Homo sapiens: one gene and its partner. The protein of the gene in region 2 interacts with the protein of the main gene of each other region in a biochemical or structural test. Each region holds a gene or a part of one and is shown on either strand. Other genes may lie near its edges.

The links. The genes of interacting proteins can lie anywhere in the genome.
Region 1: the proteins of WSB1 (region 2) and HIPK2 form a complex in vitro, tested with the Homo sapiens proteins (one study listed by BioGRID).

The regions. Positions count from the first base shown.
Region 1 is NC_000007.14:139,715,499-139,718,998, forward strand, and holds part of HIPK2 (homeodomain-interacting protein kinase 2), read right to left. Parts: exon of another isoform or gene 3,395-3,500; coding exon of another isoform or gene 3,352-3,394; intron 1,518-3,351; coding exon 434-1,517; intron 1-433.
Region 2 is NC_000017.11:27,307,614-27,311,113, reverse strand, and holds part of WSB1 (WD repeat and SOCS box-containing protein 1), read right to left. Parts: intron 3,371-3,500; exon of another isoform or gene 2,015-3,370; coding exon 1,842-2,014; intron 1,054-1,841; coding exon 940-1,053; intron 1-939. UniProt on the Homo sapiens protein: Probable substrate-recognition component of a SCF-like ECS (Elongin-Cullin-SOCS-box protein) E3 ubiquitin ligase complex which mediates the ubiquitination and subsequent proteasomal degradation of target proteins.

The DNA.
Region 1 (3,500 bases), on a different chromosome or scaffold from region 2:
GTTCCAACCAGGCTTTCACTCACATCTCCCACCACTCACAAACTGTTCTGGCCAGGCGGGTGTCCTTCTTGTCTCCTGTAAATTCCCACTAGTGTGACTGCGGACTGTGGATGGCACATCCCTCTCTCTCCACCACCTGTCTGGATCCTACCCATCCGGGAGGACGGAACTCTTCTGCTCTGCACCCCAGGTCCCAGGGAGCCCTTCCAACGCTGAACACCTGTGCCACGGATCTTACCTGGCTCCGTTCTAATGTGACTTCTAATTGACATCGCAATGTGCACATGTCCTAATTTCGTAAGTACATTAAGATCACTTGAAGGCAGGAACTGTAGACATATAATTTTATCTCCCCACAGTGACTAAGGTGGCACATTCTCTGTGAGTGCCACTGGGCATTCAGCAGCTCCTGTCTCCTTGTGGACGGTCTTACCTGTAATATCTGGACTGCAAGTAGGTGGAGCACACAGCCTTGGAGACGTGGCTGGCTGAACCAAAGTCGATGACCTTGACTCTGTATGGTTGTCTAGATGGATCCACCAGCATGATGTTTTCTGGTTTGAGGTCAGCGTGGATAAGACCTAGGCTTTTGAGTTTCATCAGGGCTGTGGCTACCTGCTGGAGAACTGGGCGAATGTATTTGAGGGGCAAGGGGCTAAACTTGTTTTGCTTCAGAAAGTCATAGAGGTTCTGCTCCAACATCTCGAAGACCAAGCACGTGTGGTTCTTGTGCTGGAAGCATTCGTAGGCCCGGACGAAGTTATAGTCATCGGCACTCTCCGTGCTCAACCGGGCCAGGATGCTCACTTCAATCTGACCTTGTCGGGCATAGGATGGGTGGTTCTTCAGGATCTTGATGGCTACGATCTCATTGGTGCCCCGTTTCCAGCACTTGACCACTTGCCCAAACGTCCCTCGGCCCAAGAACTCTAAGACCTCGTAGGTGTTGGTCATGGAGCACAGCACCTCATGCTGCACCAGCTGATAGTCGCCCTCGCTGTTGGAGCCGCTGTTTTTGGAGGTGGCAGTAGACGTGGTGGCAGTGGCGACAGTGGCCCCGCTTGCATTATTCTGAATCATGGGTGGATGCTCCTCGATGATCTGCACGCTGCTTGTGTTCTCGATCTCCTCGCTCTTACGCTTGAGTCCACATTTTTGGTAGGTATCAAGGAGGCTCACAGTGCTTCGACGCATTAGGTTGTGTGGTCCGCCGAGGACTTGCCCGGTGACAGAAGTGCTGCTTGCTGAGGTGACCACGATGTGCCCGGTGCTTCCTGGGAAGACGATGGTCTGCTCGTAAGGTAGGCTTGGGTTTGGGACCGGCAAGGAGGTGCTGACGGTTGTGGTGGCTGGCTGCGACAGGGGGATGTTCTTGCTCTGGCTATACACTTTGCTGTGGGAGCCGTACCCAGTCATGTCCCAGTTGGAACTCGGCTCTATTTTCAGTTTCTTCACACTACAGAAGGCACTTGATTGAAGGGTGTGAGGGGAGAAAACTTGCACATGTGAGGCCATACCTACAAGGAAAGGAAAACGAAAAGTAAGTATCGGAGTCACCTTGGTACAAGTAAACTCAACAGATCCCCTTCAGTTCTCATCTGTGGCTTGGGCCATACAGAATATATTCCTCCCACTTGAAAACAAGGTTGAAAAAGTGAATCTCTTCCACCCAGAAGCACATTCTGGTCACTGAGTTTGTGGAACCAAGTGGTTCCAGGGTGCCACTTGCCACCATTAGGTGCCAGCAACACAGCTGAGACTCAGAAACAGAATTCCAATATCAGGACATAGGTCACCATTTTTTTTTGTAAACATTACTTGTGACAGAAATGGATTCTTCCTCAGTTCTCCCTGGGTTGCTTTCTACTGAAACTCAGGAGGCTCTGCTGTCACGTACTTCGTTGCCCACATCATCAGCTCAGCCTTGTCCACAGACCCTGTCAAGTTTACTGGTTTGAGAAAACATCTTCCCACACAGGCCCCATCACCAGGCCACTCAGGATCTTCTGGATCCTGGATGAACCCTAATTACCAGCTGGCATCTTTGTCATCGATTCTGTAGGGTTTAGTGGATCAGCAGTTGGTCTGACGTTTTTCATTTCAACAGCATAAAACATTTTATCAGCCTTACTGGTGGGGACTGGGTAGCACAATTCATGGCTCCATTCACTCACGCTTCCTGCTAAATTCATATATCAATACATTTCTCTAGAAAGTACTATTTCTTTTTGTTTTTTTTTGTTTGTTTGTTTGTTTTTGTTTTGAGACCGAGTCTCGCTCTTGTCACCCAGGCTGGAGTGCAATGGCATGATCTCGGCTCACTGCCACCTCTGCCTCCCAGGTTTCAAGCCATTCTCCTGCCTCAGCCTCCAAAGGCTGGGATTATAGGTTCCTGCCACCACGCCCGACTAATTTTTGAATTTTTAGTAGGGATGGGGTTTCACCATGTTGGCCAGCCTGGTCTCAAACTCCTGACCTCAGGTGATCCACCCGCCTCAGCCTCCCAAAGTGCTGGGATTACAGACGTGAGCCACCGTGTCTGGCCAGAAGTACTATTATTTCATACCAACATCTCATCCACAATTTAGATAAACTTAGAAACCTATGAGACCGTTATTCTGGAACACTTGTACAAATTACGGTGATACTGAAACAAAAATTCATAGAAAATATATTAAGCAAAAATAATAAGGTGATGAAGGATAACTCCTTAAAGGTTAAAAGAGTAACAAACATTGCCCATCTTCTAAGCCACTATCAACAAACATTTCTCACAGAAGCACAAGGAAGTGCAGCTTCTGCAAGCCCTGTTGGGGGTTGGCTAACCTAGTGTTCCTGTCTCTCTGAGCCCCTGGCATTACCTAGAGTGGTAATCCTTTCCACTCCATCAACCATCACCCTAGTCCACCTTCTCTCTCAGTAGATGACCCAACTTCCACTTTGTCCAGAAGCCTGAGGTCAGCCTTACTTTCCTCCTTTATTTCCTTCTTCATTTCAGAACATTCCTGAATCTACATCATCCTCCATCCTTCATTCCTTCTCTCCAGTCTGAGAGAAAGAGGTGTTGCTCTTTTCCAATACTAAAAAAGTTCCCGATTCTCATGATCCATATTTGTCCCATTTTCTCTTGAACCTGCTTCCACCACTGTTCTTTCTCTTGTAGCTTTCCATTTCTCCCTGTACTTAATTGGATCCAAGTATTTAGTAGGAACTTAATATGGCTGTCCAAATGAATCGGTCACCTCATCTTTTTCTTCTGCCTTCATGTGCGTGCACACACAAACTCCCAACATGGAAGGCAAAAGGAGTAACAGCCGCATTCCCCCCTCTTAATTCTTTCCCTCCTCTCACCTGTGATCAATGGTTTATGCTCCCTTTTCTTCAATGCCCACATCTTAATCCATCTCCCCCAACTCGTTAATGCACTATAGGCTCCTGTTCTTGAAGGTAAATGACTTCCTAATTGCCTAATCCAATGGCCTTGTTTCAGCCCGTTCTTC
Region 2 (3,500 bases):
TTGGGAGGCCGAGGTGGGTGGACTGCTTGAGCCCAGGACTTTTAAGACCAGCCTGGGCAACATAGGGAGACCCTGTCTCTACAAAAAATTTTTTAAAAAAACTAGCCAGGTGTGGTGGTATACCCCTGTGGTGTGAGATACTCGGAAGGCTGAGGTGGGAGGATCACCTGAGCCCAGAAAATCAAGGCTGTGGTGAGATGTGATTGCACCACTGCACTATAGCCTGGGCAACAAAGCAAGACCCTGTCTCCAATAAACAAACAAAAAAAACCAGGAAAGGAAAAAAAGCTTTTCACCCAGGCTGAGTGTGTCTACAAATACAGCAGAGAACTAACATGCAGAATCTATCTGAGCAAACAGGAAACAATGGTTGCAGACAAACAAACAAAAAAAACCTCTCTCCATATGTTTGCTAACATTCTGGGAAGAGAAGAGCTGCCTTATGAATTGACGTCACCGAACTACTCAATGCTATATGCATGAACACAGATGGTTGCAACTAGTTTCTGCTTCTTACCAACAAGCAGCACATATCATTCATGTGACATTTCATATTCTAATCTCAATCATGGTGGATACAAATTACTATTTATTTGTAATTCTTTTGGTTTTACTATTTGTTTCACTTTAGAAATTTCCTTCTGCTTCAACCTTTGTTAAGACATTACTTTAAAAAATCTCTGTAAGCTGGGCTAAAAGCTGACTAAAAATCAACCCACTATGCCTAAACAAGTTAAACAAGGAACACAGGGAGAGGCATGCATTATCTTTAGTTTACACAGATAATTGTTCAGGCCGATATTCTTTAAGACACAACAAAATCTCCCAGGGGCTTGTGTTGAGGAAGAGACATTAAAACTCTTAACTGCAGAAAGGCTTTAAGGCTTAAGAATGTAAAAGGTAATAGTAAGTCAGTCAAGCTATAATGCACATACTTACTTATCATCAGCAAGGCTTGCAACATGCAGTCCATCATGGCTAAAAGATACAGATCGTACCCACCGGTCATTTGCTCCTCCAGCAAATATTGGAGTAGGTGGGGGAAACAGGTGCCTGAGGTCAAATATATGTTTTCAGTGGATATCAGTCACTTCAAGAAAACAAAATTACCCAGGTACAAAGTACATCTGTCTTTGAATAGTGTTTAAAGTAGCCTTAATTAATATAACTGAGAAGACTCAGTAGAGATGATACATCCAAATTAAAGTCACCTGAAAAGAACTAATCTTTTATGGTCGGGCGCAGTGGCTCATGCCTGTAATCCCAGCACTTTGGGAGGTTAAGGCAGGTGGATCACGAGATCAAGAGATTGAGACCAGCCTGACCAACATGGTGAAACCCCATCTCTACTAAAAATACAAAAATTAGCCAGGGGTGGTTGCAGGTGCCTGTAAGCCCAGCTACTCAGGAGGCTGAGGCAGGAGAACTGCTTGAACCCAGGAGGTGGAGGTTGCAGTGAGCTGAGATTGCGCCACTGCACTCCAGCCTGGCGACAGAGCAAGACTCTGTCAAAAAAAAAAAAAATCTTTTATGATTTAAGACAGTAAGATTAAGTCCAACTTTGGTTTTAACTGTTTTTCTCCAACAAAAACTCTAAACATAATTAGTACTTCTATAGAGAGCTGGGTACTGTTAAGTAGCAAGACTTGTATCAAGAGAGCCAAATTTACTTTTAGAATTTATATCGAAGGCTTTCCATTAGTCAAGGGCTTAAATAATACCAACATTTTAAATTAGAATAGACTGTAATTTTAGGTTGCATATATTGGTGATTGTAATTATTCACATAACTTGATAGGTGGAGATGAATTATAGACTAAAATAATTCATGCTGTACCCACCCAAATTCCATCAGAATGTCTCCATTATGTGGATCCCAGATATATACTCGAGTATCATAAGATGCAGTAGCCAGTAATGCTCCATCAGGAGAAAAGTCACAAGCTACCACATCATGGTGATGTCCTTCTAGTTTCCGTATCATGGTGTATTTATCCATATTCCAAAGGAAAACCTGCAATAAAAAGGCAAATGTTATAGCTTCATTCAGACATACAGAGGACAAAATGGCACATCTTATACTAAAACTGCTAAATTTAATTAAGATTATATTAAGCATTATAAATTATGAGTAATTTAAAGAATATGCTCAGTGTCATAGTCAGATTAAAATCAGTCTTTAAGTTAATTAAGGCAGACATGCAAATTCTATTTCAAATGTTTCTGTTAAATGTTAATTTAAAAATAAGCCTAAACATAAAATAAAGGCAATGCAATTTAACCACAAAGCTATACTGAAATCCATTTATTCCAAAAACTAATTAACTAAAATATACGGAAATAAATAGGGTTAAGTACTACAAACCCCCTTCTCTTTTTTTTCCAGAAACTACCAGATTTTTAAAAAAATATACAGACAGAAAACGTAAGGTTAACAAATTGTTACTCCATTGGCATCTCCCTTTGAGATAATCACTTGTTTACAATAGGCTTGGGTCACCAACTTGAGCCTAGGAAGAGAAACAGATACTGCAAGCAAATAGAATATTCACAGCCAAATGAAATTTCTTTGGCAAACAACAAGGATGTTAAACCACATTACAAAATGAAAATGCTATTTTATGAAAATAATACAATTACATTTCAATAAATCAAAATTTAACCATCTTATTTTTCCCAAACTAACCACGATCATAAGTCATTTGAATATAAAACGGTTCAATTATTTAAGAATAAGTTCATATACAATTTTAGATTCTAAAGATCAGTAGTTAACTGTGCAGAATAGCTCTAAACAGGATTCTAATGTTTACTTCAGTCTGTTATATTAAATGTGAGCTTGGAGGTTTATCCTAAGACAATCTCTCCTCTTGGAGTAAAGCAATCCTTTTTGGTTTTTTTTTTTTCTGCACAGACACAATACATTATTTCTAAAAGAAAATAAGTACAAATTTTAAATTGAATCAAAGACGTAAGATATCTCTGGAATCTGAAAGAATTCCAAAAAATAGCACAGAGAAACCATTTGAAAGCCAAATACTTTACATTAAATTGGTTTCACTTGTCAGACTCCCAATTCCATAAAACTGGAAAATCAATTTACTCAGGAGTCAGTGTATTTTACTGTGGGGGAAATTACTTTAAAAAAGAAAAAAAGAAAGAAAGAAAAGCAGAAAGTGGACATCGACCAGCACCTGTGTACGTACAGTACACCTTGCAGCCGAATGCAAGGTTACTTCATCCTATGGTAAAGGTCGCCCCCAGCCCGGTAGCCAGAGATGCCACTCTTTCTGCCCAGCTAACACCATTGTGCGCCTGTGTGCGAGTGGTGCCAGCATAACCTCAATCACACCAATATTGCTGCCACCACCTGTGACAGGGAAAGCAAGAAGCATATGGAAAACACACAGCCTAAAATAGCAATGTCAACATCTAATTTTGTTCTTCTTATGATTTGTAAAGAACTAAACTGAGTATCTTGCTTTAAACTTCCAACATTT